Linked DNA regions of Homo sapiens: regions 1 and 3 are each linked to region 2. Evidence: fine-mapped expression QTL. A gene starts in region 2. Each other region holds a variant in brackets. All regions are shown on one strand. Distances are between the middles of the regions. Region 1 overlaps DOCK7 (dedicator of cytokinesis 7). Region 2 holds the start of DOCK7 (dedicator of cytokinesis 7). Region 3 overlaps DOCK7 (dedicator of cytokinesis 7).

Region 1 (8,000 bases), 160 kb before region 2:
GATGAGTTCATGTCCTTTGCAGGGACATGGATGAAGCTGGAAACCATCATTCTCAGCAAACTAACACAGGAACAGAAAACCAAACACCACATGTTCTCACTCATAGGTGGGAGTCGAACAATGAGAACACATGAACACAGGAAGGGGAACATCACACACTGGGGCCTGTCAGGGGGTAGGGGGGTAGGGGAGGGACAGCATTAGGAGAAATACCTAATGTAATTGATGGGTTGAGGGGTGCAGCAAACCACCACGGCATGTGTATACCTATGTAACAAACCTGCACATTCTGCACATGTATCCCAGAACTTAAAGTATAATTTAAAAAAAGGGAAAAAAATGTTACATATAAACAGCATTTAACTAAACAATCAAAGAAAAATGCATAGGCTGAAAATACATATCAAAAAAGAAAGGATGAAAATTAGTGAGTTAAGCATCTATCTCAAGAAGTTAGAAAAAGAACATGAATGTAAACCCAAAGAAAGCAGAAGATAGTAAATAATAAACTTTAAAAAGTGAGGGTCAACAGTGCCACCATACTGGTTCTTTATAAAGACTAACAATACATTTCGACTGTCTGGTAAGACTGATAAAGACAAGAAAAGGTACAAAAATCTAGCCGTAGAAAAAAGTTTACATCTACTACAGATGATACAGACATTTAAAAAATTATACAAGGTATTTTTGAATAACTTTATAAGTCAAGAAATTTGAATACATTTCTACTAGAATAAAATTTACAAAAATCAGTTGTTAAGAAGACCAGGTGCAGTGGTTCACACCTGTAATCCCAGCACTTTGGGAGACTGAGGCGGGGGGATCACCTGAGGTCAGGAGTTCAAGACTAGTCTGGCCAACGTAGTGAAACCCTGTCTCTACTAAAAATACAAACATTAGTCAGGCACAGTGGCAGGCACCTGTAATTCCAGCTATTCAGGAGGCCAAGGCAGGAGAATGGCTTGAAGCCAGGAGGCGGAGGTTGCAGTGGGCCGAGATCATGCCACTGCACTCCAGCCTGTGTGATACAGCGAGATATCATCTCAAAAAATAAAATAAAATAAAATAAAAATAAATAAATACAATCAATGTAAGAAGAAACAAAAAACTTCAATAGTCTCACAGATAATAAATTATAACAGTAATTTTAAAACTTGAAAAAGAAAACACTTCAAGCACAGATGGTTTCATAAGTTCTCCAAATATTCCAGGAAGAGATAATTCTAATCTTAGGTACTTGCAGAGAAGAGGATAAAAGAGAAAACTCCCTACCTCATTTTAATTGGCTAGCCTAAACTTGATTCTAAAACCTGAAAAGAATATAAGAAAGAAAAATTATAGGCAATCTTAGGAACATACGTATACAAATCCTAACAAAATATTAGCAAACGAAATCCATTAGTACACAACTATGAAGAAGTTGAGTTTAATTCAGGATTTCAATGTTGGTTTAACACTAGAAAATCAATTTAAATAAACAACATTAAAAGACCAAAAAGCAAAACAATACAGCCATCTCAATGAATGTGGAAAAAGCATTCGATAACAATTCAACTATTCATAACTAAAAAACAAAATGCTTAGTAAACTAGTAACAGAAAGAGACTTCCACAATAAAGGAAGGTATCTTAAAAAAAACCCAAAACATACAGAACATATGTTTAAGAATGAAATGTTGAAAGTTTTACCTTTAAAGATACAAACATCACCACTTCTATTCAACACTGTACTGGAGGTACTAGCCAGTACAATAAATTACATATATAAAAAAACTGACAGGAAGAAACTACATTGTTATTATTCACAAATTATATGATTGTGTGTAGAAAAAAAGAATCTACAAATATGTTATTAGTTTATCACTTTATCATTTATTTTATATTGTGGAAATAAAAATCATTGTACAAAAATCAATTTTTTTGATAATGAGTATTTTGTTTCTGTACAAAAATTGATTCTATTTCCATATAAAGCAATCAACGTTAGAAAACAGAATTTTTGAAAAAGACACCATTTATAGGAACATTAAAAAATATCAAGCACGAATAATAAATCTACAAAAGATATGCTAGTCCTCCTTGGTAGAAACTAAAAAAGTTTATGTACTGAAAGACACTAAAGGCAGCCTAAACAATGGGGGGATTTGTGTTCAAAAATTACGAGATTCAATAGTATAATCATAATTCAATACAATCTTAACTAAAATTTTAACAGGTTTATTGGTTTTTGTTTATTTATTTTAGTGGAACTTTACAAGCTGATTTTCAAATTTATGTAGATATACAAAGGGCCAAAAAGTAGCCAAGAAAAATTTTAAAAATGTATGACTTTCTCTACATGGTAGACCATATACAGGCAGTATTTCAGAGATGTAGGGAAAATATTCTTTTAATAAACGGTGCTGAAATAATCTGGCATAATATGCAATATAAATAAATAAATAAATGAACCTGGACTCCCAACTTACACTGTATATAAAAAAATCTATTTCAGGTAGATTTTAATTTTAAAATTAAATGTAAAAGGAAGAACAAAAAATTTCGAATGTAACACAGAATACCTTCAAAATTCTGAAACAGAAAAAAATTCCTTAAATAAGATATAGAAAATATTAGCTGCAAGACTAAATTTAAGTATATTAAAATCAGGCATTCTAGGCTGGGCACAGTGGCTCACGCCTGTAATGCCAGCACTTTGAGAGGTCGAGATGGGCAGATCACGAGGTCAGGAGATCGAGACCATCCTGACTAACATGGTGAAACCCCATCTCTACTAAAATACAAAAAATTAGCCAGGCATGGTGGCGGGTGCCTATAGTCCCAGCTACTCAGGAGGCTGAGGCAGTAGAATGGTGTGAACCTGGGAGGCAGAGCTTGCAGTGAGCCGAGATTGTGCCATTGCACTCCAGCCTGGGTGACAGAGCAAGACTCTGTCTCCAAGATAAATAAATAAATAAATAAAAAGTAAAATAAAATTAGGCATTCTAACCACCAAATTCACCATTAAATGGGTAAAACAGCAAGCCACAGAGAAGAAATATTTGAACCACTTATAACTGACAATGGACTTGATCTAGAACATACAAAGTCCTAAAAATCATTAAACAAAAGCAAACAACCAAATGGAAAACAAGCAAAGAACTCTAGACACTTCAAAAGAGAGAATCCAAATGGTCAATCATACTTATGGAAAAGTGCACACCGCACAAGTCTTCGGGGAAATACAAGCTAAAATGAGATTCAACTATAAATGACCAGATTGGCAAAAATTTAAAAATCTGACAATTCTCTAAGTATTGATGAACATGTGAAGGAATGAGAACTCTCATATTGTATGTGTTAAGTATAAATTAAGGTACGCCCTCTGGAAAATAGTTGGCCATTACCTGGTATAGATTAAGATACCCACAGTCTATGACCCAACAAATTCCACTTCTAGAAAATACTCTAAATAAAAGTATATATATGCATGCAGGATATATATAAAAGAAAGTCTGCAAAATTGTTATTTGCAATAACCAAGGATCAGAAACCATTCATGCACCTATCAACAGAATGGGCAAATAAACTGATTTATAGTTAGACAATGGAATATCATACTGAAATGAAAATCAGTGAATTATAGCTACATTTCATAACATTAATGAATACTAAAAACATAATATAAAACTAAACTACAGTATTTTGGCAGGACGTGGTGGCTCATACCTATGATCCCAGCACTTTGGGAGGCCGAGGCAGGTGGATCAACTGAGGTCAGGAGTTTGAGACCAGCCTGGCCAACATAGTGAAACCCCATCTCTACTAAAAATACAAAAATTAGCCAGGCATGATGGCAGTCATCTGTAATCCCAGCTACTCGGGAGACTGAGACAAGAGAATCGCTTGAACCTAGGAGGCAGAGGTTGCAGTGAGCCAAGATCGTGCCACTGCACTCCAGCCTACCTGGGCTACAGTGCAGGGCTCCGTCTCAAAAAACAAAACAAAACCAACCAACCAAACTATATATATATATATATATATATATTACTATAAACTATATATTTTTAAAATGCAAACTTAGACGGTAAAACTCTCTATCTATACATTTTTTTGAGATAGAGTCTTGCTCTGTTGCCCAGGTTGGAGTGCAGTGGCGCGATCTAGGCTTACTGCAAACTCCACCTCCCAGGTTCAAGTGATTCTCCTGTCTTAGCCTCCTGAGTAGCTGGGATTACAGGCGCCCACCACCATGTCTGGCTAATTTTTTTGTATTTTTTAGTAGAGATCAGGTTTTACCATGTTGGCCAGGTTGGTCTCGAACTCCTGACTTCAAGTGATCTGCCCACCTTGGCCTCCCAAAGTGCTGGGATTACAGGCGTGAGCCACCATGCCTGGCCTAGATGGTAAAACTCTAAACAAAATTATGCAATTATATCATCAATCAGGACACTGAGAGTTTGGTGGGTTGCTGTGGTTGAGAAAGGGCATGCTAAGAACTTCTGGATGGCAGCCAACATCCTTGTTTTTGACCTGAGTGGTAATTACAAAGCTGTTTATTTTCTAATGTTTTAAAACCTCATTATGTTTTATGTACTTTGTCATATGTAGTATACTTCACAAAAGAAAAGTTAAAAAAAATAAAAAGGTTAATACAATTGAGAACAA[T/C]GGTCATTCCCAGGGGAGGGAGAGATCAAATTGAGGAAGGCCACTGGTAGCTTCAAAGGTTACCAGGCTGTAATGTCTGATTTCTTAAACTGAGCAGTGGATATGCTGCTGTTTATTTTATTATTACATTTTGTACATGCACTTTATTGTATTATTTTATAGGTAGAATGTCACCAAAAGTGCAATTGATAAAAAAAATTTGCTACACTGGAATTCATTAAAAACTTTCACACTTCAAATGACACCATCAAGAAAGTAAAAAGATAATCCATAGGAAGGGAGAAAGTATTTGTAAATCAGATAGCTGATTATTTTACAAATCCAGAATACATAAAGAACTCTTAAGAAATCTTAAAATAGCAACCTTTTTTTTCTTTTGAGACAGGGTCTTGCTCTGTTGTGCAGGCTGGAGTGCAATGGCACAATCCTGGCTCACTGCAACCTCCACCTCCCAGGCTCAAACAATCCTCCCACCTTAGCTTCCCAGGTAGCTGGGACTACAGTAGGCACATGCCACCACGCCCGGCTATTTTTTGTGGTTTTGGATAGAAACAGAGTTTTGTCATGTCCCCCAGGCTGGTCTCAAACTCCTGAGCTCAAGCAATCCTCCCACCTCAGTCTCCTAAATTTCTGGAATTACAGGTGTGTGCCACTGTGTCTGACCAATGACAAAAGATTTGAATAGACTTTTCTCCAAAGGAGATATACAAAACAATGTGCCAATAAGCACACAAAAAGATGTTCAACATCTGTAGGTTGTTAGGGAAATGCAAATCAAAACTACAGTGAAGTTCCAATTTACAATCACTAAAGGTGTCCTAATCAAAAAGACAGATAATAACAAGTGTTGATGAGGATTTGGAGAACAGAAATTCTTATTCATTGCTGATGAGAATGAAAAACAGTACAGCCACATTAGAAAAAAAAAAAGAGTTTAGAAGTCTCTAAAAATGTTAAACATAGAAGTACCATATGATCCAGCAAATCCACTCTTAGGTATCTACCTAAGAGAGATGAAAACATATGTGGACACAGACTTGTACATAAATGTTCGTGGCAGCATTATTCTTAACAGCCCCAAAGTGGAAATGATACAGCTGTTCATCAACTGACAAATGGATAAACAAACTTTGGTGTATCAATACAATGGAATACTATTTGGCAATAAAAAAGGAAAGAAGTATTGATACATACACGACATGGATGAACCTCAAAAACTTATGCTTAGTGAAAGAATACAAACACAAAAGATCATATAGTAAATAATTTCATTTATATAAAATGTCCAGAATAGGCAATTCTATAGATAGAAGTAGGTTAGTCACTCTCTAGTGCTGGGGTAGGAACGACTGCTAATAGGTATAAGGAATCTTTTCAGCGTATTGGAAATGTTCTAAAATTAGCTTGTGGTGATACCTGCGCAACTCCGTAAATATACTAAAAACCATTAAGGTATATATACTCACAATAGGTGAATTTTTTGATATGTAAATAATCTTAATAAAGCTATAAAATTGTCAAGTTTCCTTAAATATTACTGCATTTTTCTGGAAAAAAATGTCATTTAAAACTTTTAGAACTTGATCTTGCTCTATTGGCAATTTGGTTCCTTCCTGCCCTGATCCTTCTGCCTTTAAGAGGGGAAAAGTTCAGGGGCATAGTAAATATCAAGTGTTTTCAAAACATAAAAAAGTATAAATATTCACAGATTAAAAAAACCCTCAAATGACTGAGAATCTTTCTTAGGGCTGACAAAGAATAAAACAGGTTTAAAAAAATAAAGAAATGAACTATTCCAAAGGATTATAAATCATGCTGCTGTAAAGACACATGCACACGTATGTTTATTGTGGCACTATTCACAATAGCAAAGACTTGGAACCAACCCAAATGTCCAACAATGATAGACTGGATTAAGAAAACGTGGCACATATACACCATGGAATACTATGCAGCCATAAAAAATGATGAGTTCATGTCCTTTGTAGGGACATGGACGTAGGGACATGGACGAAGCTGGAAACCATCATTCTCAGCAAACTATTGCAAGGACAAAAAACCAAACACCGCATGTTCTCACTCATAGGTGGGAATTGAACAATGAGAACACATGGACACAGGAAGGGGAACATCACATACCGGGGCCTGTTGTGGGGTGGGGGGAGGGGGAGGGATAGCATTTGGAGATATACCTAATGTTAAATGACGAGTTACTGGGTGCAGCACACCAACATGGCACATGTATACATATGTAACTAACCTGCATGTTGTGCACATGTACCCTAAAACTTAAAGTATAAAAAAAAAAAAAAAAGAAATGAACTATCTATAATGAGGCAATTTTCCAAATTCTGAATGACAGAATACGGGGCTTTTTCCCATAAACCTTGAGGTAATCATTTTTTAAAACTGTTTGGGAGAAGACAGTTAATATTCTGGGAACTTTAATATTTTCATAAATAAAACTGAGCACTTTTGCATCAGCTGATACAATCATCTCATATATTTAAGGGCATATCCTAGTAAATATTTGTCTTTCTAGAAAAAAAAATTCTGTAGGAGGATTGTTTTTACCGTTGACGTGAGGAGGAAACTGCCAGGCCTTGTTAGTTGAGGGACCGATGTCCCTGCGATTGCCATGGCAACGGTCTGGCTTATCATACTTCCGCTCTCACTTTCATAATCATCAGTGGCTATACAAATTGGTCTTCCTCGTTGATTGTGAGTTTCTAAAGAAAAATAATCCAAAAAAATAAATAAAACTGTTTAGCTGAACTAATTCCCTTTCCTATTCTCCACTATTCTTTAAAAGAATAACTTGTTGACATGTTATAGTTATTAGATTTACTTCTTTTGGATAATATTTTAAATATCTTTAACAGTAACTCATTGCTATGGTAATAATTTATAGTTTACAGAGAACATTAACTTGCTAGTCAGAAGATGTAAGAATATAAACATTTCTGCCTTCAGGTAAGGAAATTCATTTTAGTGATCAAAATACTTGAAAGACTGCTCAACAATCAGTCTCTTAAGGCAAATAGCTGGTTATCTTTGCAACACCAGCACCTGTCAAAGTTCTTAATACACATTAGATACTCAGGAAATGTTTCTGTTTTACTGAACTGGAAGCTATCGGGCTAATTGCTGGTTTAAATTCCCTCATTTGCCCTAAAGAAAATATTGTTGCAAACTAAATTCTGTATTTAAGTAAATTCTAAATATGGAAAGCAAGAGCAATAAAACTCTGTAGGTTCTAGTTTTGAAGAAGTAATACCACTTCAACTTATTAACCTGGTGTTAGCAATAAACACAATTCCTGATATTCAAGTGAATATTCATTTCAATTTTATA
Region 2 (11,037 bases):
GGGGCAGTGGGGTGGAGGTTGCAGTGAGCCGATTGCGCCACTTCACTCCAGCCTGGGCGAAAGAGCAAAACTCCATCTTAAAAAAAAAAAAAAAATCTGAAATCAGAGAACTAGGATTTGAGTCCCAATTTAGGCAAATACAGTTGCTGTTTTTAGGCCTCAATTCCTCATCTAGAAAATGATAACAACAGTAAGTAATATGGAAATCATAATAGCAGTGGCTAACATTTTTGAATGCTTATGTTCCTGACACAGTACTACTAATGCATTATTAGAACTGTATTAGCTCACTTACACATGTATTAACTCATTTAATCCTCACATTAACTTTATTGAGGCTGTTATCCCCATTTTTCTGTGGTATATGCAGAATTTCAACCTGTGCAATCTGATCCCAGATCCTATATTCTTTAGTACATTTTCTGCCTCTCTGGGTTATGAAGATGAGAATGCAGTAAAAAGTGCTTTAAGTGTACACAAATGTTCATCATTACTGCTGAGTATCAAGCAACAGGACAAAATAATCCCAACAAAATCCTAGACAATTTGTCTACAGTCTACATTCCATAAATCCATGGGCCTTATCCTCAAAAAGCAAAGGGGACACACATGTACAAAGACAACTACTTGATATGGACAAGATATACATGCTGCTTTTCTATGGTGAGCTGAAGTAAACAGTATAATTAGTGATAATAAGAATAAAGAGCCTTCAGAAATCACCAAATCACAGCCTCAAAAAATAACTGCACTAAATGCAAGGGGCTAAAAAATAACTGCGACAGAAACAAGATCATTATAATTCTTTTTAAAGTATAGGTTTCTGAACAATCACAAAGCTTTGAAAAGAAATAAGGTTTCAAACAGCAACAGGCTTTTCACAGAGCAACAAATTTCATATACGAACACTAGGAAAAGGATTATCATTTCCAACAAAAGCCTCAAACCACATTATAAATACTGTAGTAAAAAACAGTTGATACTTACTAGGCACTTAGAGCACTGTTCTAAGCACTTTAGAGGTAACAATTCATTTAATCCCCACAACAACCCTACGAGGTTAAGTCTTACCATCATCCTCATTTTCTAGATAGGGAAAACGAGGCAGAAGTGTGGTCAAGTAACTTGGCCATGTTTACTCAACGAGTGGCTGTGCTGGGGTGTCAAACCCAGGAACTTCATCTCCAGAATTTGTGCTATACTTCCTCTAATAGAAAAGTTAAAAAGCAGAACACGAATTGATTCAGAAGTATTAAGTATTATTCAATCATATTTGATAACAAGGAAGAACCTTTCATTCACAATAAGCAGTTAATAATGCATTACTCATAGCAGTTCTGTCTTTGGTATTCCTTCCAAGTTAAGTCTGCACATTCTCACTGGACAATCTCATCAACCCCCACCCACCCCCGGGCTCCAAATGCAATCTACTTGCTGATAACTCTCAAATCTAGATCTCCAGCCCAATCTCTCTTCTGCACCTTCAACCTGCACCAAAAACCAAATAGATATTTCTCTCTGAATGATTCATGAGCCCCTCAAAATTAACATGTCCAAAACTGAATCATCATCTCCATCCCACTTGCATCTCCCAATCTCAAACTCCTTTTTCCTCCTGTACTCCCTTACCCCAAAGACTGCCACCATCATCCACGTGGTTGCCCAACTTAGGATGTCATCCCAGACTCCTCAGTCCGCCTCACCTTGCATGTCCAATCACCAATCACTACCATATCCACCTCCTGTCTGTCCAATAAGTGCACATTTCTTCATTCACATTATCTTAATTTTATAACTTCTTAGAAAGCTGTTCTTATTTGCATTTTGTGTTGTTTTGCACAACTGATTCTCTTTTTCTCTTGTGGTTTGTCCTATCCCATCTGGTGGCGAACTCCACTAATAGACATACAATTTCATATCCAACTCTCTAAAGTGCACTTACTTTATCAGCATGATGTTTTCAGAGATAAACTTCTGGTTCTAATAAGAGAAATTAAAACTAGGAATACATGTCAAGTAATAACTTTTTTTTTTTTTTTTTTTTTTTTTTTTTTTTTTTGAGACGGAGTCTCGCTCTGTCGCCCAGGCCGGACTGCGGACTGCAGTGGCGCAATCTCGGCTCACTGCAAGCTCCGCTTCCCGGGTTCACGCCATTCTCCTGCCTCAGCCTCCCGAGTAGCTGGGACTACAGGCGCCCGCCACCGCGCCCGGCTAATTTTTTGTATTTTTTTTTTTTAGTAGAGACGGGGTTTCACCTTGTTAGCCAGGATGGTCTCGATCTCCTGACCTCATGATCCACCCGCCTCGGCCTCCCAAAGTGCTGGGATTACAGGCGTGAGCCACCGCGCCCGGCCAGTAATAACATTTTTTAATGACATCATCATCAGAAGTAAGACCTAATTATTTTACAAAAAAAAAAAATTTCCTGTCATCATAACTCCCTGGGAGAAACTAATTACTACAAGTGTTTGATGACAGGTAGTATAGGCCCTGTACTATCCTACGCACATTACACAAATTATGCCACTTAATGTTCACAACAACACTATGAGCTGGGTCCTATTATTATTCTCATTTGCCAGACGAGGAAACGGAAATTTGGCCCAACAACTTGGCCAAAGTCCCAAGCTAGAAAATACCAATCAGGATTTGAACCCATGTCGGGGTCTGAGAGTAGAGCCCATGCTCTTAAACACTTGCTATTTTGCCCCTTCAGGAAAAAAAAAGTGCTAGAACGCTGGAAAGAAAGAAAAAAAAAAGCCTCTGCCTCGAAAGCAGCTAGGACGACAGGTGCAACACCACACCTGGCTAATTTTTTTGCAGAGATGGGGTGGGGGGGACTCGCTATGTTGCCCAGGCTGGTCTTGAACTCCTGGCCTCAAGCGATCCTCCTGCCTCGGCCTCCCAAACTGCTGGGATTACAGGCCTGAGCCACTGCATCCGGCCCAAAATTTTTAAAGAAATGTCAGCAAACTAAAAAGACTCAGAGCCACAGAACTACAACTGCCCCAAAACAAAAAAAGGTAATTTAATATGAATGCTTCTTTTCTTGGGACATCATAATTCACACAAATATGATTTTATTAAAACAAAAATGTCTACTGTCTCATACATAAGTATACTCCACAAAGAAATTCTACAAATATTAGAGTCCTCTGTCATTTAATTTTTATTTGGCGGGTGGGAGAAAGGTGGCAACCAACCACCACAAGTAGGTGAAAGGCTTTGAAACCTCCACCTCAATCACTTGCTTTACTTCAAGACTGCAATCACTTGCTTTACTTCAAGACTGCTAACATATAAAAGGATGTCAGTGTATAAAGAACACTGCCTATCATCCATCTTCTCGGGTGCTCTGAGAAACACAGGCGCACAGTTAAATTCACAGGCGAACTCAGAACAAGCTTCAGCCTGCAATCCGTCAGGGATTCGGCAGCTGCACACCGAAGGTGCAGCCCGCAGCTCTCAACTTTTCATTCTGTCCACACGTTTTCAATCCTGGACGCACAAGTCCACTTTGAACCTGGCCCGAGGGTGCAAAGAGGGTTCCTGTCAGATTTCTCAGGAAGAGAGAGACGCGTGAAGGAGGGGCGGCCTCCCACCCGCCCCGAGCCGCCGCGCGTTTCTCCTTTTGTTGGGGTGGAGGAGGGCGGACCCCGCACCCTCTAGGGGCCAAGAGGGGTGGGCGGAGAGACGGGAGGGGGCGAAACGCCGCGGCGGCCCCCGACGAGCCCGGGGGTGGGAACACAAAGAATTTGGGAAGCGGCCGACCGCCCTTCCATAAACCTCCGCAGAAGTCCAGGCCCGGGCCGCCGAGGAGCAGGAGGAGGCGGGCGCGCTGGAGTCCGCGGCCCTCTCCGCTCCCTGCCGAGGCTCAGCGGCGGGCGCGGGCTGAAGGCCGGGGTTCGAGGGCGGCGCGAGGCCTCCGCTACCCCCTCAGCCACCCCGAACCCCTTCCGCCCCGCCGCGAGCCAGGCCGCGGGATCCCGGTGCCGGCCCCGCCACACCCACCCGCCTCCTAGGCCAGGCCTGGGAGGACTCCGCGGCTCTTTCTCGGGCGGCGGCGGCGGCGCGCCCCACGCCGGATATTTACCTGCTGATCTTCTGGGCGAAGGCGCGGCGCTCGGCCATGGCTGCTGCGGCGACGGCGACGGCGGCGGCGGCTGCGGCGGGCCGGGTGCGGACCGGCGGGCGCGTGCCTCCTCGCTCGTGCTCCCTCCCTCGCGGCCTCCGCCAGTCCGGGCTCCGGACCTGGGAGGCTGGGGCTGGCGGCCGGAGCCAGGAACGAGCCCTGCCGTAATGTTCCTTAGAGGCGCGCAACGAGAAACCGCTCCTCCCCCAGCGCGTCAATCCCGGCGGGAACCCCGGCTGCGGAAGGCGGCTGCGGCCGGCGGGAGCCGAGGGGAAGAATGGAGCGCTGAGGAAGCGAGGCGCCAGCCCCAGCCGCTTCGCTGCCGCGGAGCCTGCACGACCGAGAGGTCGCGGAGAGAAGCCAGAGACAGGCCAGCGACCTGGCGAGGCAAGAAAATAAGATAACCGAACGCGTAGGGGGAGCTTGGCTTTCCCGAAATGGAAGGGAAGGAAATGAAAGGTGGGCTTTGCCGAGGGGGCTGTGCTTTAACCAAAGCCCTGGATGACTGGGTTCATGTTTCTGCAGCACCGGTCTCCGAGCTTTTTAAAGCACTTGGGTTTCTGCTTCGGCCTCATGAATGCAGCCTAACTGGAGAAACAGTGGTTTTTCTTATAGAGAAAGAGCCAGAAAATACCTTGCTCCTGCAGCGATAACAATAGTAATAGTTGACTTCTGGTGCTTAGCCAGCCACTGGATTAAAGTTTTTCAAGCACGAGCGCTTTGAAGTAGATCGTTACTATCACTATTTTAGAGGGAAGGAAATTGGCTTGGAAAAGCTAAGTGACTGGCCCCAGGTCGCACAGATGGTAAACTCTTCCACTGAGACTCAAACCCAGAGCCGGTTCTTTTCTTTGAGGACAGTTGTTTCCGTATTATTAACCCCTTTTGGATCTCTCTCTGTCTCTCATACATACATATATATATATATATATATATATATATATATATATATATATATATATATAAAATCCAGGTGAGCTCTAACGTTCACCCCCATTTTGATGTTCTGTTAAATAAGCTCTGTGTTGACCACTGAAACTGACCTTGTCCATAATAGCCTATAAAACAGAGACTAGCAGAGATTTGTTTTCATCTGTTCTGTTGTAATCCCATAATGTCTAGAATATTTGGCTCCTAATGCATATCTGTTGATACTGAAATTATGGTGACACTAAGAAAAATATCTTGGTTTCTTGTAGTACCTTTCCTCTTAAGTATTGCAAGAACTTAAAATGTGTATTTATTTATTGTTATTATTATATTCTCAGTATGTCCTGGTGGAATATGTTGGATACCTGTTTTCCTCTCTTTTACCATTGGAAAATCTGTAGCTTGGAGCCATTAGGTCACTTGCCAGAGTCACACACTGAGTCAGAGGTGAAAGCCTCAATTAGTCAGATCCATAACTTCCTGTCTAGTGCTGTAACTTCTGTGGAAGACTGTGTATTTATATAACAATGCTCATTGCAGTAACACACTGCTTTTATTTATTGATTTATTTATTTTAGACAGAATCCCCCTGTGTTGCTCAAGCATGGAATGCATAGGGCACTGCAGCCTAAAACTCCTAGGCTCAAGCAATCCTCTTGCCTCAGCCTCTGGAGGAGTAGCTAGTACCACAGGCTCTTGCCAAGGCGCCCTCCAGTAACACACTGTTTTCAGATGCTTGTTTACTAAAGGAAAAGATAGTCTATTCAAAGAGGACAGATATTTGGCTTCTACCTAAGTATAGAGCCCACCTAGGTGTTCTAAAAAACACGAAGGTGAACTAGACACAGACCTGCTCTCAGAATGTTTGAGTCCATTGGGAAAGATGAACCAGGTACTCACAGACTGTAAGTCAAGGCTATCACTGTACCTGGCTTTTAAGACCCTCTGTGATAGGAACCCAGACTTATTTTGCCACTTTCTTACTCTGTAACCTTAGGCAAGCTACTTAACTTCATCTCTAAAAGGAGGAAAATAATTATATCTACTTGAAAGGGTGTTGTGAAGATTTATTGAATTGATTAATATAAAGTTCTTAGAACAGGGCCTGGTTCATGGTAAGTACGATGTGTGTCAGCTGTTGTTATTATTATCACTGTTACTGTCATTATTCATCCTATACTTAAGCTTGTCCTGGGTGTTTGATAGTCCCTGAATTGGTTGTCTGCTCTCATACTCCCAGCCAGATGTTGCATGCCTTTATCTCTGTTCTCCAAACATCTTTTCACTACTCTCTTAGAGAACTGGCCACATTTTGCTTTGAATAGTTCTTTGTATACATGACTCACTAGTTGCCAAAGTGTCTGAAAGGACTTTGCATGTACTCTGCAGCTTACTGGAAACATTTAGAGCAGGAAGAGGACAAGCAGGATCACGCTGTAAGCAGGGTAATTCAGAGTCTGGGGAACACTCTAAGCAGGAAGGGTGACCCCCTACCTCTGGGGAAGAGCTGGCAGTCACAGACCAAGTCATGTTGGCTGGTATCCCTGCCCCACAGGGTTTCAATGTCAGGAAAAGATATGGAACGCAGCAATGGGAGTGACAGTGGAATTGCTTCAGCTGACTAGCATCCATGCTCCCTATACCACCCCCTACACACACACACACACACACACACACACACACACACACACAGGTGTCAATCCACTATACTTCTGGGGAGCTCACTCCACCACCCTCAGTTTCAAGGGTCTTTTGACCTGGGCCTCACCAAGCAAAGCAGCACACTCCTCTGGCTTCTGTAACTGATTTAGGGATAGGCTCATGAATCAAACCAAGACAATCGGGCCCAACCAGAATTAGAAATTGCATTTGGTATACCAGGGCACTCCATCTAAAGAAGGCCTACCTGAGAATGAAGCCAAGCACAGCAGAGAGGAGAGCAAAAATATTGAAAAAGACAAGTTCCTTAGAATATAGCATGACTTGAGCCTTGGACTTTGCAGTTACATGAGCTAAAAATGTGCTGGAATTTTTTTGGGGGTGTGGCTGGTTTTTCATTAGGTTTGCTTTCATTAGCAGTTCAAAGTCTTACCTGATACAGGACTTCATTCAGTTAACTAACATTCATTAAGTACTATACTAGACCCTGGAAATATAGTGGTAAATAGCGCAGTATTTCTGTCCTCAAAGAGTTTAGGGTCTGGTAGAAGAGAAAAGTAAGTAAATAGTAAGTTACATGCTGAGACAGGAAAAATTAAGGAAGCTATTGGAGTGCATATAAATTCTTGATAGCACCAGTTCTCAAATATGAGGTGTTAAAAACTGGATGGAATTTAACCCTGTCCTTAGCCCTGTTATATAACCTAGGAGAAAGGCTGGCTGCAACTCCGGGAGCATGAGTAGCCCAATTCAGAATTCAGGGCCCAAGCTCCCCACTGATGGAAAGATACAAAGAAACTACTTGCCAGAAGCCAGGACCAATTTGGCAGAGTCTACTCAAAACAGTGAGTTTTAGGTAAGAAAGCCTCAGAACAGTTTTCATTAGACATACCAGTGTACTAAGTCCCTCAAGCAGAAAACTTAGGGATATGACAGAAAAAAAAAAGTAAAGAGAAAAGAAGGTGGGAAAATTATGAGTTTTGCATTCTACCCTTTATTGAACTTGGGTCTACCCGCTTTAATGTAGCACCAAGGAGGATTGTGGAGGGGTCTGGTCAAGGGTCTAAGGCTACAGTACAAAGAAATAGAGTTTTCGGGTCATGATGGATTAAGTTCTGGCTTTGCAGGCAGAATGTGTTCTCTTTTGGGATTTGGGGGAGCATAGGGAATGGTTCCTTTTTTTCAGGCATGGGCTTTTTTTTTTTTTTGAGACGGACTCTCACTCTGTAGCTCCAGCTGGAGTGCAGTGGTGCAATCTTGGCTCACTGCAAGCTCCGCCTCCCGGGTTCACACCAGTCTCCTGCCTCAGCCTCCCGAGTAGCTGGGACTACAGGTGCCCGCCACAATGCCCGGCTAATTTTTTTTTATTTTTAGTAGCGATGGGGTTTCACTGTGTTTGCCAAGATGATCTCGATCTCCTGACCTCGTGATCCACCAGCCTCGGCCTCCCAAAGTGCTGGGATTACAGGCATGAGCCACTGCGCCCGGCCAGGCATGGGTTTTTATGAAACACCGCTGGTTTCATACAATAAGATCAACATGGAGCTTCCTTCTTTGGAAGCCTCTAGCAAGGCCAAATGAATGTGGCCCAGAGAAAGGGAGAACTGAGGCATGATATGTGGGTTTACCTCAATCCCAAACTAAAGCCTAGGAGTTGGACACTAAATCTAAGCTACAGATGCTTTTGCCTGACTTTGTCCTATGTGCTTCACTTCCTGTCAATATCTAGCAAGTGTAATTTTTGCAGGGGGAAATTAAGGGGTCCTCAACCTGGCCATACTTAACAACTAATAGCACCCACATTTACTTTGTTGTAATACTCACCACACTATTGAAGTATTGTCTGTTAATCTTTGCACCCCATCGAACTTGATCTCTTGTTCACCATTGTATTTCCAGTATCTAATACACTGCCTGGTCCATTATAATAACTTAGTAAATGTTTTTGAGTGAATAAATGCCATGAACTAAAGTATTTTTAGATCCTGCCTGTATTCATCCGTTTTCATACTGCTATAAAGAACTGCCCAAGACTAAGTAATTTGTAAAGGAAAGGGGTTTAATTGACTAACAGTTCAGCATGGCTGGGGAGGCCTCAGGAAACTTACAACCATGGTGGAAGGTGAAGGGGGAGCAAGGCAGCTTCTTCACAAAGCAGCAGGACGGAGAAGTGCCAAGCAAAGGGGGAAGAGTCCTTATAAAACCATCAGATCTCCTGAGAACTCACTCACTATCACAAAAACAGTATGGGGGAAACCGTCCCCATGATTCAATTACCTCCACCTGGTCTCTTCTTTGACACGTGGGGATTATGGGGATTACAATTCAAGATGAGATTTGGGTGGGGACACAAAGCCTAACCATATCACTGCCTTAATTTATATTTCCCCAAAAATAGAGCTTGAGGCTTGGATGCAGGTAGTTTATTAGGAAGTGATGCTAAGAAGCTGGAATGAGGAAGTGGAGAGAGTAGAACAGAGAAGGGAAAGCCAGTAAATAGTGTTGTTGAGGTGTTACCACTGTGGGCAATTTAGGCTCAATCCCGCCTGCAACCTGCGTAAAGTGTGGAGTGCACCTCAGAATTGTCTCTTTGAGGCTCAGTATTTACCTGATGCCATCTAGATCTCTTGGCTGAAGGCTTACTATTGGAATATTAACTGCCCGCACACTTAATACTACAAAAAGCTAAGAGACATGGTGTGTGTTTCTGGTGGCCAGCTATCAGTGCCCCTGAGAATTGTTCACCACAGCTACACCTAAAATCGGAAAGGAGCCATGGGGTGAAGTACAGGGTACCAACAGTGTCTATTACAGATCCCCTGAAAGTAATGCAGAGACTACAATAGGGATCTTGCCAGAATAGAACGTATTTGCACCTCATGGTTCTGCTGCTTTACAGAATTGGGAAAGACCAAAAGGCCAGACCACCTGAGTCAAAATGGCCCACAATGCAAGCTCAGTGCCTACTTTAAAAATAGGTCCATAATGTTTTTCCTCAATGGACTATTATATCAGTAGAAAAAAACAGTTTTTCCCATACTCTAACAACATGCTTCTGACACCAGATATGTGGGATTTTTTTCCCCATACATCAAGCAAGCAATCGATTCTGCAGCAGACACCAGTTGAGTCTCCTCCAATTCCGTTCTGGAGTTCTGGAATCTACCTGAAGTTCAGTTCTGACACTGTCTACCTGGAGTTAGCGTCAGATCCCACAGGTTGAGGGCTTGGTCCCACAAGACTGCCCCCCACATCCAGTGCCAATTGCAAGCCACAGGTTGTTCTACCAGTGCTTTGACTGACTGTAAGTTGGGGTTCCCACAACCCCTTTCCTTGAGTTTGATTAATATACTAGAGCAGAACACAGGGGAATATTAATATTTACCAGTTTATTATAAAAGATATTACAAAGGATAAGTAGAAAAGATGCATAGGGCAAGGCATGTGGGAAGGAGCGCAGAGCTTCCATGCCTTCTCTAGGTGCACCACCCTCCAGAAACCTCTACATGTTCAGCTCTCTGGGTTTTGGTAGAGGCCTCATTACAGAGGCATGATCAACTAAATCACTGGCCACTGATGATCAACTTAATTTTCAGCCCCTCTCCCCTTCCTGGAGGTTAGGTGGTAGGGCTAAAAAGTCCTGTATTAATCCGTTTTCATGCTGTTGATAAAGACATACTTGAGACTGGGCAATTTACAGAATTAAGAGGTTTAATGGACTTACAGTTCTACCTGGCTGGGGAGGCCTTACAATCACGGCAGAAGGCAAGGAGGAGCAAGTCACGTCTTACATGGATGGCAGCAGGCAAAGAGAGAGCCTGTGCAAAGAAACTCCCATTTTTAAAACTATCAGATCTTCTGAGACCTATTCACAATCACAACAACAGCACGGGAAAGACCCGCCCCCGTGACTCAGTCATCTCCCACCAGGTTCCTCCCACAACACATGGGAATTATGGGAGCTACAAGATGAGAATTGGGCAGGGACACAGAGCCAAACGGTATCAGTCCTAAACCTCTAATCGTCTTTTACCAGCCCCCATCCTGAAGCTACACAGAAGCTGCCAGCCACCAGTCATTTTATTAGCATACAAAAAAATTATTCCTTTGGAAATCACAAGGATTTTATGAGTTTTATGCCAGGAAATGGAATGAAGACCAAGTATAGATTTTACAGTATCCAGCTATATTTCAAGGTAGTCATATTTGATGAAGTAAAATTCTTTTAAAAGAATTTCAGCTAAGAAATGCAGACTCAGATGAAATAATTAAGCTAAACCTGTATAATCCAATACCGTAGCCACAAGCCACATGTG
Region 3 (8,000 bases), 61 kb before region 2:
TAAAGAAAATTCATAAACAACCAATGTTTAAGAAAAGTTACACTATTAACAATTTGGAAATAGGATACAGGCTGGACATGGTGGCTCACACCTGTAATCCCAGCTGGGAAGCCGAGGAGGGTGGATCATGAGGTCAGGAGTTCGAGACCAGCCTGGCCAACATTTAGTATCCTGTCTCTACTAAAAAATACAAAAATTGGCCAGGCATGGTGGGTGCCTGCAATCCCAGCTACTCAGGAGGCTGAGGCAGGGAGAACTGCTTGAACCTGGGAGGCGGAGGTTGCAGTGAGCCGAGATCTGTCTCTGCACTCCAGCCTGGGCAACAGAGCGAGACTCTGTCTCAAGAAAAAAAAACAAAAAAAAACAGGATACAGGTATGAAAGATGGATTTTGATGCATTATTAGTCATGGTCAACATTTCAACATTTAAATAAATATAATGCTAAAATAATAGGAACAATATAAATCGTTTCTCATTCTTATAGTTGCTTTTATTATTTTTATTCTTAAAGTTTTTAAGTTTCTTGGAATCACCCTCCCATACATGTATAGTACAATCACTACCTTTCTGAAATTAAAAAAATTTATGCACAAACATCTCCCCAAAATTCCTACATGACAGAACAATACCTGCTTAAAAAAATTTGTCACTGTGAGAGTAGCTGGTCGAAAGCTCGTCAAGTTACAAGCATCATCTCCACTTGTTGTCCTTTCAAGTGATCGTCTGCCAACAATACTAGAATTCCTCCTCTCTGACCAAGACCCTTTTCGTTCTACAAAAGAATTAAAAAAAAAATTCATTTTCATAGAAGTTAAATTTTGTTTTAAAGTAGCTTTCCAAACACAAGGAAGAATCTACTAAATTGAAAATTACCCACTCAGCATATCAAGTATAGTAGGAGAATTTTGCTTTTGGAGAGATTAGTAAGAAAGTACCTAAATCTTCTGGTTGTCTTTTTACAACATCACAGGTGTAAAAATAAGTTTCTAACATGCAAAGATCTATGGGCATGACCAATGATGAGCCACAAAGAGCAGCTATAGAGGAAGTATGCATTTACTACAAAATGTTTACCACAGGAAAATTTTAGTCATCGTTAATCTTCCCTCAGTCTTAGCTCTTTAGTTTGAAAGAGAATTGTAAGATAATTTGTATTCAAAGTACTTGCAAGATAATCCTATTATTTAAAACCAACAGAACTAGACTGAAGATTAACAAGGAAATAGAATACTTGCACAAAACTATAAACAAACTAGACCTAATGGACATTTACACTACACTAAAGTACACTAAGCAAGAGCAGAATATACATTCTTGTCAAGCACTTAGAAAATATTCTCTAAAACAGTCTATATACTAAGCCATAAAACAACATACAATACATTCAAAGAGATTAAAATCATATAAAAATGTTCTCCAACAACAGAAGAATTAAACTATAAATCAATAACAGAAGAAAATTTGGGGAATTCACAAATGTATGTAAGTATAATAGCCCATTTAAAAAATAGCTAATGGAAAAAGAAGGAATAATAGAAATTAGGAAGTATTTAAGATGTATGAAAATGCAAGAACAACATACCAAAGCATTGCTAAAGCAGTGCTCGGGGGAGGATTTACAGCTATTAATGTCTATTTTAAAAAGAACTATCTCAAATCAGTAATATAACCTCAGACTTCAACAAACTACAAACTACAAAAGAAGAGAAAAAAAATCCGAAACCAGCAGAAGGCTACAAGAGGCAACTGCAGAGTGGAAATAAGGAAAATAGAAACTATAAAAACCATACAGAAAAATCAATTAAACCAAAAACTGTTTGTTCAAAAAGATAAACCCGACAAATCTTTAGCTAAAATGATGAACCAAAAAAAAAAAGACTCAAATTACTAAAATCAGGAATGAAAGAAGAGATATCATTTACAGACTTTACAGAGTAAAAGGAATAAAGGAATATACAGCAATACTATGAACAACTGTAGGCCAACACTTAGATTAGATACCAACTAGATAACTTTGATGAAATGGACAAATTTCTAGAAAGATTCAAAGTATTTATATTAAAACTGACTCAAGATGAAAGAAAATGTGAATAGACCTAAAACAAGTAAAGAGATCGAGTTAGTAATGAAAAAACTTACCACAAAGAAAAGACCAGGCCATGACAGGTTCACTGGTGAATTCTTCCAAACTTTCAAAGAATACCAATCCTTCAAAAACCCTTCCAAAAAAATGGAAGGAACACTTCACAACTCATTCTATGAGGCCAGTATTACCCTGATACCAAAACCAGACAGAGTCATCAAAAGAAAGAAAAACTACAGACTAATATACCTTATGAATATAGATGCAAAAATCCTGAACAAAATACTAGCAAACAGACTCCAACAACACATAAAAAAGATTACATGCCATGACCAAGCAAGACTTTTCCCAGGAATTTAAGGTTAATTTAACATCCAAAAACCACATCATTCGATGCAACACCACATTAAAAGGATACAGGACAAATAATTCTAATAGAGGCAGAAAAAGTATTTTACAAAATCTAACAGACTTTCATGATAAAAACACTTTTAAAAATTAGGGATAGAAGAGAACTTCCTCAATCTACCAAAATACATCTATGAAAAGCCAACAGCAAATATCATACTTGATGGTGAAAGACTGATTGCATTTTCCCTAAAGTCAAGAATAAGACAAGGATATCCACTCTTGTCATTTCTAAAACATTGCAGAAGAGGTTCTAATAAAGACAGAAAAGAGAAAGAAATAAAAGGCACCCAGACTGAAAAAGAAAAGTGAACTACTTTTTATTTGCAGATGACACGGTTTTGTATACAGAAAATCCTAAAAAATCTGGGGAAAAAAACGAACAATAACAATTCGAATTTAGTAAACAAATTCAAAAAGGGTTCAGAGTATAAGATCAATATACAAAAGCCAATTTTATTTCTATACACTAGAAATGGACTTTCTAAAGACAGAATTAAGAAAACAATTCCATTTAAAATATTATCAAGAAACGATAAAATACTACGGTATAAATTTAACAAGAGAAGGACTTGTACACTGAAAATGACACAACACTGAAAAAAATGAAAAAGATTTAAATAAATGAAAAAAATTTCATGTTCATAGATTCAAAGATTTAAAATTGTTAAAATGGCAACAATCTATAAATTGACTTAGAGATTCAATGTCAGCCCTATCAAAATCCCAGATGCCTTTGTGCACAAACTGACAGCTGGTCCTAAATTTATATGGAAATAAAAGAAACCCAAAATTGCCAAAACAAATCTTGAAACAGGATAAAAGCTGGAAGACCCACTCTTCTCAATTTCAAAACTTAGCCTTCAAAGGTAAAGTAATTTGGTATAGCAGCGGTCCCCAACCTTTCTGGCACCAAGGACTGGTTTCATGGAAAAAAATTTTTCCACAGATGGGGTTGTGGGGATCGTTTCAGGATGATTAAAGCGCATTACATTTATCATTAGAGTCCCATAAGGTGCACGTAACCTAGATCCCCTGCATGTGCAGCTCACAATAGGGTTCATGCTCCTACCAGAATCTAATGCCACTACTGATCTGAGAGGAGGCAGAGCTCAGGCGATAATGCTAGCTCAGCTGCTGCTCACCTACTGCTCTACGGCCCGGATCCTAACAGGCAGGACAGGTACCTGTCCGCCACCTGGGGATTAGGAACCCCTGCAGTAAAGCACTGGCATACAGATCAGTGGAATGGGATGGAGAGTCCAGAAATAAATCCCACATGAATGGTCAATTGACTTTCAATAAGGGATCTAAGAAAATTCAATGGGAAAAGAATAGCCTTTTTAATAAATGGTGCTGAAACAACTGGATATCCACATAAAAAGAATGAAATTGGACTACCTCACAACATACAA[A/G]TATTAACTCAAAATGGATTATTATAAACCTAAATGTAACAGCTGAAACTATAAAACTCTTACAAGAATACATACAAGTAAATTTTGATTCATATTACATAATGGTTTCTTAGATAAAACACCAAAAGCACAGTGACAAAAGAAAAAAATAGAAAAATGTAACTTCCTCAAAATTTAAAACTTCTGTGCTACGAACAATACCATCAAGAAAAGTGAACTCACAGACTAGGAGAAAATTTGCTATCATATATTAGGCAAGGAATTTGCATCTTGAACATATAAAGAACTCCTACAACTCAATGCCAAGAAGGTTAAAACCCCATTTAAAAAATAGGCATCAACTATTAATAAATAATAAAAAGACCAAAGCCATTAAAAAATGAGCAAAGGTTAAAAATACCTATTACTCCAAGAAAGATACACAAATAGCCAATACACACAAAATGATGCTTAATATCGCTAGCTTTTAAGAAAAGGTAAATCCAACCTACAATGAGTACCACTTCACTTGCACTAGAATGACTACAATCAAAGAGCAGATAATATGTTACACTGGTAAAGATATGCTGAAACTGGAACCTTCACACACTAGTGGAATGCTAGTGGAATTTTTGAAGGTGCAGCCAAATTGGAAAACAGTGTGGCAGTCCTTCAAAAGATTAAGCACAGAATTATCATATGACCCAGCAATTTCACTCCTAGCTATATATCTACATATCTAAGGAAAAAAAATGTCCACACGAAAGCTTGTAAATGACGTTTCAACACTATGAAACATTATGCATAATAAACTAAAAGTAGAAAACCCAAATCAACTGATAAATAAATATAGTATATCAATACAACAGACTATCATTTGGCAATAAAAATAAATAATACCAATACATGCTACGACATGGATGAACCTGAAAAACATTATGGCAAGTGAAAGAAGCTAGCCACAAAAGACTACATATTATACAAGTCAATATGTATGAAATGTCTGGCATAGACAAATCTATAGAGACAGAATATATATTAAAGGTTGTTTAGGGACAGGTTGCAAGACTCTGGGGGAATGAGGAGTGACCACTGCTAATGGGTACAAAAGTGTTCCAAGATGGATACAGAAGTATTCTGTAGCAGTGGTTGCAGAACCCTGTGAATATACCAAGAAAACACTGCACAGTAAGTCCTCATTTAACATCATGGATCAGTTCTTCAAAACTGTGACTTTAAGCAACACGTTGTATAACAAATCAATTTTACCACATGCTAATCAATATAAGCAAGAGTTAAGTCCCTACAGCATATTTCTGGTCACAAAAACTTAACCAAACTTCTAAATATTCAAAACACTTCTAATATTAAACATTCAAATAAATGTGCACTGTACATACATTTAAGAAAGATTAATAAAAATAAGTAGGATAATTATTTACCCAATTATCCCAGTTCAGGGTCACAAATGGCCGAAGCCTGTTCCAGCAGCGCATGAAAGAAGGCAGTGTATGGCAAATGCACCCGACAGCAGTAACTTAAGCAAGCCCTGAGAATGACCCTATGGTCTAAAAAGAATGTGTATTCGGAGTTCCGAGCTAAGGAACCTGGGAGTGGCCAAACTTGAAGACTCATTCCTTATCTATGAGAATAAGGACATCTGAACTTCTAGCCCATCCAGTGAAATCTAGGCCATACATGGAATCAAGGCCCTTTGTTTTGGGTTAAATGAGGGTTTCCAGGTAGAAGTTACTAGGGGGAGGATGCTAAGTGAAAATGCTACATAAACTGCATGCTTTTTCAAGTGGCTGTGGTTTTCGGTCCAGCTCGCCACTCTGCATGTAAGTTCCCTCAGTAAACCCTATGTCTCATTCTCTGGCTCCCCATCTCTTCTTCAGCCTGTGATATGATGTTATACTTACCAAAGTCAATAGGGGTCCCGCACGACAGGCAGGCACCTGTCCTGGACAGGACGCTATTCCATCACAGGTGCACTCACACACACACACCCATGTTACCTTACGCTGCTACCACTTAAGACATGCCAATTAACCTCATGCACACAGCTTTGGGATTTGGGAGGAAATGAGTACCCAAAACTCCCCACACAGACTTGGGGAGAACATGCAAACTCTACACAGACAGTAGCTCCAGCCAGGAATCAATTTGTTTCCTCATCAACATTATAAAAAATCAAAAACAAAATGAGATATTTGAAGATCTCCTGTATTGTACAATTTAAATTGGTGACTTATATGGTATGTGAATTATATCTTAATAATGGTGTTAAATGAGAAAAAGGCAAAAAAAAAGAAAAAAGAAAATCCTTTTTATGCAATATTACATTGCAGAGTCTACAAATGAAACAAGCTTATATAAGAAAAAAGAGGCCGGGCATGGTGGCTCACATCTATAATCCCAGCATTTTGGGAGGCCGAGGCAGGCAGATCACTTGAGGTCAGGAGTTCGAGACCAGTTTGGCCAAAATGGTGAAACCCCATCTCTACTAAAAATACAAAAATTAGCCAGGCGTGGTGGCGCACATCTGTAATCTCAGCTACTCAGGAGGCTGAGGCAGGAGAATTGCTTGAACCCCGGTGGCAAAGGTTGCAGTGAGCCAAGATCGTGCCACTGCCCTCCAGCCTAGGCCATAGAGCGAAACTCCATCTCAAAAAAAAAAGAAAAAAGTAAACATTTAGAAATGTTTTGTATGAAACACTCTTACCTCCAGTACTGATTTCTACTTCTGTAGAATCTCTTTCCAAACTCCCAGCACTGCTAACAATATTCATTAAATGGATTGCAGTCCAAGCAAAAGGCATGCGATATTTCCCAAGTCTTTGGCAAAACTGATCTGCTTGACTCTTCAGTTTCTCCAGTTTTTCTTTATTCTGCAAAACAGAACTTTATACATTATATGATTATACTTGAAAGAAATCAGTTAAAGGCTATTTCATACTACATAAAGGAAAAGGATGAGAAGTCTCAATTCTCAGCAGAGATGAGAAAAAAATCTGTACCTTACAGAGATGAAGTATTAGTGCAATATCTTAACCAGTGAACAAACTCAACACATTCTACAAATGTACGTACAGAGCAGGTCTTTGAAATTTCTATTTGTGATTATGTTATTCTGGGGAGAAGAGAGTAAGTACCAAACATGTATTATGTATTCCAAGTATTGTTTTAGGAAGTATAACCATGGTCTAGTCAGCAACTGGTAACTACAAAATATTCTAGTTATAATTTGTTAAATTTTGTTACTCTATAAAAGATGGAAGTAGCTGAGCACATTTGAAATAGTCCCTAACATATAACAACCATGAGTTAAGAGTGGGGAAGCACGAATAGGCCAATGATAAACAAGCTCAGAGTTGTAACAAAAGAAGGAAAGTAAAAAGTAAAAAGGAAAGTAGAAGAAGACTAAACGCTGGAAAAAGACTAACGGTCCAAATATTTAATAGTACAAGCATATCTGGAAGACATCTTGAGGCTGGCTCAACTTTTAGGCTACTCCTGAAACAAACATCAAGAGGTGGCCTGCAAAAGCCAATCAACACTCAAGACTGAAACCTATACTACCTCTCTCATATACTCTTTGCAGATGGGATGTTGAAGTATACACTAATGACAGTGTCCTACCTTGGGACTCAGGGCTAGAAAAAGATGAAACGATAACTAAATGATAGCACTATTACTATCTCTACTATACCCTTAAAACAGTTCTTATTTTAAGTATATTTCAAGTATACTTAATTCTATCAGTGTATGTAAATATAAGTAAAAAGCAGAATAAGCTGCTAGTATATTTAAGAGCACTATGTAACAGAGCAAATTTAATGTAAAATGACAACCTGGGGACAGCCAGAATACTATACTTAAACCATTAGTTCAGCCAGGTAATCAAGGATCAAGAAAAAAATATCATGTGCTCAGATCTACAGAAAAAGCTCAGTTCTTGTTATGAATCTTGGGAAAATAGCAAAACATTTTCTGGGTTTGGGTTGCTTACCCAGTATTCCTCAAGCATACTTCTCCCAGAAGTTCCAGTATTAAATCTTGTGTTCAAAGATCCAAAGATCACTTGTATTCTTGTAGCTAACCCATAGTATCT

Evidence for each region.
Region 1: its variant is fine-mapped to the expression of DOCK7 in whole blood (TOPMed, PIP above 0.99).
Region 3: its variant is fine-mapped to the expression of DOCK7 in whole blood (INTERVAL, PIP above 0.99).

The regions. Positions count from the first base shown.
Region 1 is chr1:62,520,931-62,528,930 of GRCh38, forward strand. DOCK7 (dedicator of cytokinesis 7) reads right to left here. Exons shown (of 50, transcript NM_001367561.1): 31 at 7,221-7,375. Among named protein-coding and RNA genes, the nearest start is that of ANGPTL3, 73 kb to the right of the region's middle. The variant T/C (reference allele first, on the strand shown) is at 4,647.
Region 2 is chr1:62,684,134-62,695,170 of GRCh38, forward strand. DOCK7 (dedicator of cytokinesis 7) reads right to left here and starts at 4,253. Exons shown (of 50, transcript NM_001367561.1): 1 at 4,094-4,253. The coding sequence starts at 4,131. DOCK7-DT (DOCK7 divergent transcript) reads left to right here and starts at 4,349. Exons shown (of 2, transcript NR_185999.1): 1 at 4,349-4,519. RefSeq lists a silencer at 3,606-4,355 and an enhancer at 5,365-5,659.
Region 3 is chr1:62,624,629-62,632,628 of GRCh38, forward strand. It overlaps DOCK7 (dedicator of cytokinesis 7), which reads right to left. Exons shown (of 50, transcript NM_001367561.1): 11 at 6,612-6,777; 12 at 631-773. Among named protein-coding and RNA genes, the nearest start is that of ANGPTL3, 31 kb to the left of the region's middle. The variant A/G (reference allele first, on the strand shown) is at 3,908.